Homo sapiens: one gene and its partner. The protein of the gene in region 1 purifies or fractionates together with the protein of each later gene. This does not show direct contact. Each region holds a gene or a part of one and is shown in the gene's direction. Other genes may lie near its edges.

Region 1 (3,825 bases):
TATTTAAAGTACATATTTTGTAGATAGCATGTAGTTGTTGTTTTAGATGGCATACAGTATTGCTTTTTATTAATTTGACAAACTGCCTTTTTACAATATTTTGTTTATTAATATCTAATGTACTTATTGATATAATTAGATTTAAGTCTATCATTTTATGATTATTTTATGTCTTTCCCTTCTTTTTTCTTTTTGCTTCCTTTCCAGCTTCCTTTTGGATTAATGAGTATTTTTAATAATTCCTTTAAAAGCAATCTATTGACTTTTTAGCTATACTTATTTTCTTCTTTTTTTAGTAGTTGCTCTAAGGATTACAGTATATGCTCTTAACATTTCAGTGTACTTAAAGTTATTATTTCACCATTTAATGTGAAATATAGGAACCTTTTAACAGTATAGGTTCATTTACCTGCCCCATGCTTTATTCTATAGAGGTTATTTGTATTATGTCTACTTTCAGTATAAACCTTAGAGTAAAATGCTATTATTTTTACTTTGAGCACTTATATGTGTTTTAAATAAATTAAGGGAAATAAGCAGTTTTTGATACTTACCCATTTATTTACTTTCTATTAGTCTTCATTTCCTCCTAAAGAGCCATGCTTTCATCTGTTGTCATTCCTTTTCAGCCTGAAGAACTTTCTTTAGTATTTATTGTAATGCAAGTCTTCTGTTGATATTTGTTTACTTTTCCTTTGTCTCAAAAATGTCCTTATTTTACTTTCATTTTTGAGGGATGTTTTTGCTGGGTATAAAATTCTAGGTTGACCTTTTGTTTTCTTTCACCATGTTAAGAATTTCATTCCACTGTCTTCTGATTTCCATTATTTTTGATAAGAGGTCAGTAGCAATAATTTGTATCATTGTTCCCCTGTATGTAATGTGTTGTTTTTTCCTCTGAATACTTTCAAGATTTCTCTTTACCTTTAGTTTTTATCAATTTGACTGTAGTATTTCTAATCATGGTCTTCTTAATATTTATCTTACTTGGTTTGTTGAACTTCTAATATAGAATCTGTAAATTTGTCTTTTATTAAATTTGGAAAATTTTCACTCACCACTGAAAAAATGTTTTCTGCTTCATCCTCTGTTTTCTCTATTTCTGGGTTTAAATAAACATGTTAGGCATTTGAATCTTGTCACACAGATCCCTGAGGGGCTTTCTTATTACAGTCTTTTTTCCTCTTAATTCTTCATATTGGGTAATTTTGATTGATTTATTTGCATGTATACAGATTCTTTCCTCTGTTATTACCAGTGTGCTTTTAATCTCATCCAGCATAATTTTAATTTCAGAGATTGTGTTTTTCAATTACAGAATTTTTTTTCGTATTCTGGTATTTCTATTGAGATTGCTTAACTTTATCTTCATTATAAGCCTAGTTACACTTAATGCTTTAAAATCCTTATCTGCTAATTTTAACATCTAGTTTAGTCTCAGGGTTGCTCTTCATATGCTGTCTTTTCTTTTAAGAATAGAACACATTTTTTGTGTTTCTTCATATATCTAGGAATTTTGAGTTTTTATCCTGGACAAAGTGAATATCATATTATGAATACTCTGTTATTTTCCTCGAAAAATGTACCTTTGTTTATTTTTTTGTTTAGGAGGGAAATCACATGGTTGGATTAAAATGGCAACAATTCTGTTTTGTTTGTTTTGAGATGGAGTCTTTCTCTGTCACCCAGGCTGGAGTGCAGTGGTGCAATCTGGGCTCACTGCAACCTCCACCTCCGAGGTTCAAGTGATTCTCCTGTTTCAGCTTCTTGAGTAGCTGGGATTACAGGCATGTGCCACCACGCCCAGCTAATTTTTATATTTTTAGTAGAGATGGAGTTTCACCATGTTGGCCAGGCTGGTCTCGGACCCCTGACCTCAAGTGATCTGCCCGCCTTGGCCTCCCAAAGTGCTGGGATTACAGGCGTCAGCTGCTGCACCCAGCATGAATATAAAATATATTTAATATTCACTAAGTGGAAGTGGGTCATCATAAAGGTTGTCATCCTCATCTTCATGTTGAATAGGCTCAGAAGGAAGAGGCAGAGGTGGGGTTTGCCTTGCTGTCTCAGTGGTGGCAGAGATGGAAGAAAATCCACATGTAAGTGGATCCATGCGGTTGAAACCCATGTTGTTCAAGGGTCAACCTGAGTTGTTTTTAAAAATTATCTGTAGGGTTGTCAGTCTGGTAGATTATATATATATATATATATGTTTTATCAATATTGTAACCAGAACCTGAAATAATTACTTCTTAGTATTTTACTGTAATGCATTTAATACAAAGAATAGCTGGATTGGAGTGGATCAGTATTTATATTGGAACAATTAGAAATAAGAAATAAGGTTGAATAGATAATGGAAGCAAAGATTGTAGAGAAAAGGAAAGCCTTATTCTTGTAGATTAAATTAGATACATTATTTGAGGAGATGTGAATAATTAAGACTAGATTTGAACCTTTAAGGCAAACACTTTTTAACTGCATCATAATTTCCTATAAAGTTAGCATATATATTTCCCTCATATTAAGTGAGAGCATTTACTTATAAAGAATCATATTCAGGTGCTTGCTTCACGTGGTTATTTATTTCTGAGTCCACAACTAAAACTAAGTAGTTTTTTTCAGATAATTTAAAAGAGTATTTACTTTTCACGATACAAATTATACACTAAGTTTATTTAACAAAATCTGCTTACTGTAGGTCCAGGTCAAGACCTCGTCTCCGTTCTCATAGTCGTAGCAGTGAAAGGTCCAGTCACAGAAGAACGCGTAGTCGGTCTCGGGATAGAGAACGACGTAAGGGCAGAGATAAAGAGAAAAGAGAAAAGGAGAAGGATAAAGGGAAGGACAAGGAATTACATAACATCAAACGTGGGTAAGTTGGAGCAAATCTTATCTGGTAAGGACTTGGTGATTCCATGGCGATGTTCAAACTAAATTTTTGTTCTCTGAGGTTTTTCTTGTGGCTTATTTGCTATAAGAGTAGAAGAAAATGGAATAAAAAGAGAGAATACAGTAGAGAAGGAAGAAAGGATAAATCAAAATAGTTACCTCAGATTTTTACTGTGGTACATTTTCATTTCTATTTTTATTTAATAATAATATAACAATATTGGAATCAATATAAACAGCAATATCAAAGTTTAGTATGTAAGTAGAGGAAAATTTGCCTAATTCTGTAGGAAAGTTTCATACTCTGTTTCCTTTGTTATGAGTATGAACTTAAAATTTGTAGACTACTTAGTGATTAAAAATGTCTATTACCATATTGTAAAGCTGTTAGCGGAAAAGTATAAAGTTGAAACAGAAGGAGGGGACCATGTGATTTACTATTGTTTAAGCCTTTTTTAGTATAGAATGGGAGCTTGGGCAATATTAGGGTATGTGTGTGTTTGTAAGAGTGAGTGTATCTGCTTATGAGGTCCAGATTTTATTTTTCATAGAATTGATATTATTAAAACAATGAGATTCTAGTTTTGTCCATTTAGAGACAGAACTTGAAATCCACTCATAAGTGTTTGTCAAATTAGAAAACATTAAAATGAAACAATCTTTTTTAACAGAGTAAATTTACAGCATCTTGTTTGTTTTATTCAAAATTGTAATTGGGGTCTTTTATTCTAGGAAGTAGAATCTAATCTTGGAATTTATCCTCTTTTGTCAGTCTTTCAGTGTCTTGTGTGAATATATTTATTGTAATACTTCAATATAAATGTGTTTATATTTAATGTATTAGTTTTCCATGTTGAAGAGTTTACTAGGATTGCACATATAGTATCCTGAGATCTTGATTCTATAAAGAATTATTAAGTTTATTAAAAGATA
Region 2 (3,825 bases), about 22 Mb from region 1:
GCACCCGCCAATTTGCTTTCTGTCTATATGGATTTGCCTGTTCTGAAGATTTCATATAAATGGAATCATACAATATGTAACCTTTTGTGCCTGGCTTCTTTCATTCAGCACAATGTATACGAGGTTCACTCAGGTTGTAGCATGTATCAGTACTTCATTCTTTCTTTGGCTGAATAATACTCCATTGTATGGATATACTACGTTTTGTTTATCAGTTGACATTTAGATTGTTTACACCTTTTGGCTCTTATAAATAGTATTGCTAAGAGCATTCTTCTACAAGTTTTTGTTTAAATACCTGTTTTCAATTCTTTTGTGCATGTATCTAGGAATAGAATTGCTGGATTATGAAATAATTCTATGTTTAAAAAGTTTTTGAGGAACTCCCAGACTGTTTTCCACAGATGCTGCACACTTTTACATTTTTTCCAGCAATTTTTGAGAATTCTAGTTTCTCCACCTCCTCGCCAGCACTTTTGTTTTCTGGTTATAGCCATCCTAGTGGGTGTGAAGTGGTGCCTCATTGTGATTTTTATTTGTATTTCCCTAATGACTACTGACGTTGAGCATCTTTTCATGTGTTGGCCATTTGTGTATCTTTGGAGAAATGTCTGTTCAAGTCTTTTATCAATTTTTTAATTGGATTGTCTTTTGGTTGTTGAGTTTAAGAGTTCTTTACATATGTAAATATGGATACAAATCAGGTTTATGATTTGCAAATATTTCCTGTCTTACTGTGTGCTGTTTTTTCACTTTCTTGTTAGTGTTCTTTGCACAGAAGTTTTTAATTCGTGTGAAGTTGAATTTGTTTTTTCTTTGATTGTGTATGCTTTTGGCATTATATCTGACAATCTATCACCAAATCCAAGGTCCTGCCAGTTTACTCCTGTGTTTTCTTCTGGCAATATATAGTTTTAGTTCTTAACATTTAGCTATTTGGTGGATTTTGAGTTAATTATTGTATGTGAGGTAAGGATTCAACTTCATTCTTTTGCATGTGAATATCCAGTTATCCCAGCATAATTTGTTGAAAGAGCTGTGTGATTTATGCAAGTCTGAGACTCTTATTTGTAAAATGAAAGTGATAAAAACACTTGCCTCACAAAGTTGTTGTAAGATTAAATAGGAGAGGATATATGTATTACCACTTTGAAAAGTATATATCATTAAACAAATACTCATGATTATTATTGGCATGCCACATAGAGCTTTCATTTGGTCAAGGCCGCATAGATTGATGTCCTTCAGGGACCACCACACATCTTCCCTCTTAGTGCATAGTGAATCACGACGTAACTAAAGGACTGTGATCCATGTTGTATCCCTAGGTCCAAAGTCACAGGGCCCCAGATGCAAGAGGTAGTTGGAGAGATTGCAGCTATCCAGAATTGAAAGTATATTTTCTTGTAGGGCATGTGTTTGTTGAATTCTGTTGCTATTCCTCATATTGAGGAATGTCTATTCTAGGTGTTTAAAGGCCCTAAAGAGTTTTCAGGCATAGTAGGAAATTAAAAGGCAGTTTCTTCTTATTGGACCAAGAATCCTCATGTTTCACTCTATCAGCTTTTAAACTTCCAGAACTAAGACTGTTTAAATGGCTAGTGATCTCACTTAGTTCAGTCAACAAATACTTACTAATTTATCACTATGTGCCAGGCACTGTTCTAGATACCGGAGATATAGTGCCTTTTAATATAAGACCAAACTCTCTTGACTTTGCATTCCCCTCTCAATTTGTTTTCTACAGTTATCTAACTCACTGACTCCAGTTCCTTTTCCACCAGTCTCTCTTGAGTCCACATTAATCAGGCCCCTTCCCCCACTGAAGCACTCTTGTCAAGCTCACCACTGACCTTCATGTTGCTAGCTCTAGTGAATCAGTTCTCAGTCTTCCTCTTACTTGACCTTTCAGCAGCATTTTACACAGTTGATTATTCCTCTTTCTTTGAAACGCGTCCTTCATTTAGCTTTGCTGCATTCTCTGCATTTCCCTCTCACCTTATTGGAGGTTTAGTCTTTTTGCTAGTTCCTCATGATCTTCCTGACGCCTAAAAGTTGGAGCATTACATGGCTCATTAATACTCCATTCTTCCTTATTGACTCTTATTTCCTTGGCATTTCAGTCAGTCTCATGACTTTAAATACCATCTATACACCAACAACTACATGCTGACTACCAAATGTATATCTCCAAGTTAGGAAGGAAATAACTGCAGTAACGTCTTTTCCTTGCTTATGTCCTTCTCTGACGGCCTATTCCCAACTCAGCAGCCGGAGGAATCTTGTTAAAAGTAAGTTATCCACTCAGAGGCTTTACACTTTCCTACAAGGCCCCTACATAATCTGAACTCCTCTTTGTCTTTCTGACCTCATCTGTTACTGCTCTTCCCTGTGCTTGCTTTGTCCCAGTCAAAAAGGGGACTTTTTTCTTCTTCCAACAAGCCAGGTATGTTCCTTCCACAGGACCTTTGTTTCTCCTAGTAAAGCTTCCTCCCTCGTTCTCTGTCTCCCTTCCCTTTCAAACTCTGCTTCTCAGCACTTTGGGGTAAAAGGGAGGGGTATCCTCCCACCCCAACCCCCTAGACTGAGCACTAAGGCTATCCCCTTCCTCTTGTTTGTTTATTCATCTTACACTTTCATTTGAACAGAGTTCCTCCAGTTGAAAAAGCAGCTTGAAAACTGCTTCTCTGTGAGATTAGAAATAAAAAGCAGAGATTAGTGGTTGTGAATGGAAATGTCATTAAGGGCTTAGGAATCCTAGCAAGGGCCACTTATCCCTTCCATTTTGTAGATCGTAGGCATATTTCCTATTTTACAGCCTTGGGGATTGGGCCCCAGAATACTGCTGTTGTGAGTACTGATGTGCTCCTACCAATGCCAAGTCTTCCATCAAGCACTGTGGCCCAGCTGTTAGCATTTTGTCTTCTCTCAACATGATACATCTTGGCAGTCTTGGTATTCTTCTAGTAGAAGGTTGAGACCCCTTTCCCATGGTGGGCCCTCAATGAGTGGAGGCTCACTGGGTGCTGGCAGCAGTATTGAGATCCAAGTATTAAAGGCAATTGAGGGTTCTGTGTAATGAAGAGTGTGTTGATTCTACTGAGAAATGCCCCAGGCCTTAAAAGGGCAAACAGGCCACATCTAGTGACAGTCTATCTAGATAGCAAGTTTAGACACTTCATCAGGGGCAGTGTTTCTCAGCCTTTGTCTGCAAACCTACAGGCCTTTATGTGGGCCCTCTGGTGGGTTCATGTTATTAAAATCTGGAATGGTGTCTGTTCTGATTTGTTGTTTTAGAAGAAAAGGTATTATTTCTAAGAATTTTAGCCAAACAAGTATTATATAAATACAGTCTCTTTGCTTTCCTTTTCCTAGATGAGCTGATTTCCTAGATAATAAACAAGTAGATAAATTAATATAATTTCAGATAGTAGTAATAGTGCTATGAAGAAAATAAAGTGGAGGGCTTTTCCCCTGATGCTGAACACTTGGGTTGTTTCCAATTTTTCCGTGTTTTAAACATTACTGCAATGAACATCCTGGTACTTGGGCAAATGTGTGAATGTTTATATTGCATAGATTCTGAAAGGTGGAATTGCTGAGTCATATAATCATATAGCTAAAATTTTAATTAAAAACTGCCAAATTGGTCCCCAAGTTATCTGTACTAATATTACATATATAAGATATATATAATCTAATTAAAAGCACTGATAATATTGAATACGTTCTCTTTGTAAGAGTAATTAACATACTGTTAGGCTAAAAATCTTCATACCCTCACCAATTTGTGAATTTTTGCCTCTCTTAAAAGTTGTACAAAAT

The links.
Region 2: the proteins of RSRC1 (region 1) and PPP2R3A purify together in Homo sapiens (co-immunoprecipitation; one large-scale study listed by IntAct). This does not show direct contact.

Annotation. Positions count from the first base shown.
Region 1 is NC_000003.12:158,200,371-158,204,195, forward strand, and holds part of RSRC1 (serine/Arginine-related protein 53), read left to right. Parts: intron 1-2,701; coding exon 2,702-2,875; intron 2,876-3,825. UniProt on the Homo sapiens protein: Has a role in alternative splicing and transcription regulation. Involved in both constitutive and alternative pre-mRNA splicing. May have a role in the recognition of the 3' splice site during the second step of splicing.
Region 2 is NC_000003.12:135,972,152-135,975,976, forward strand, and holds part of PPP2R3A (serine/threonine-protein phosphatase 2A regulatory subunit B'' subunit alpha), read left to right. Parts: intron 1-3,825. UniProt on the Homo sapiens protein: The B regulatory subunit might modulate substrate selectivity and catalytic activity, and might also direct the localization of the catalytic enzyme to a particular subcellular compartment.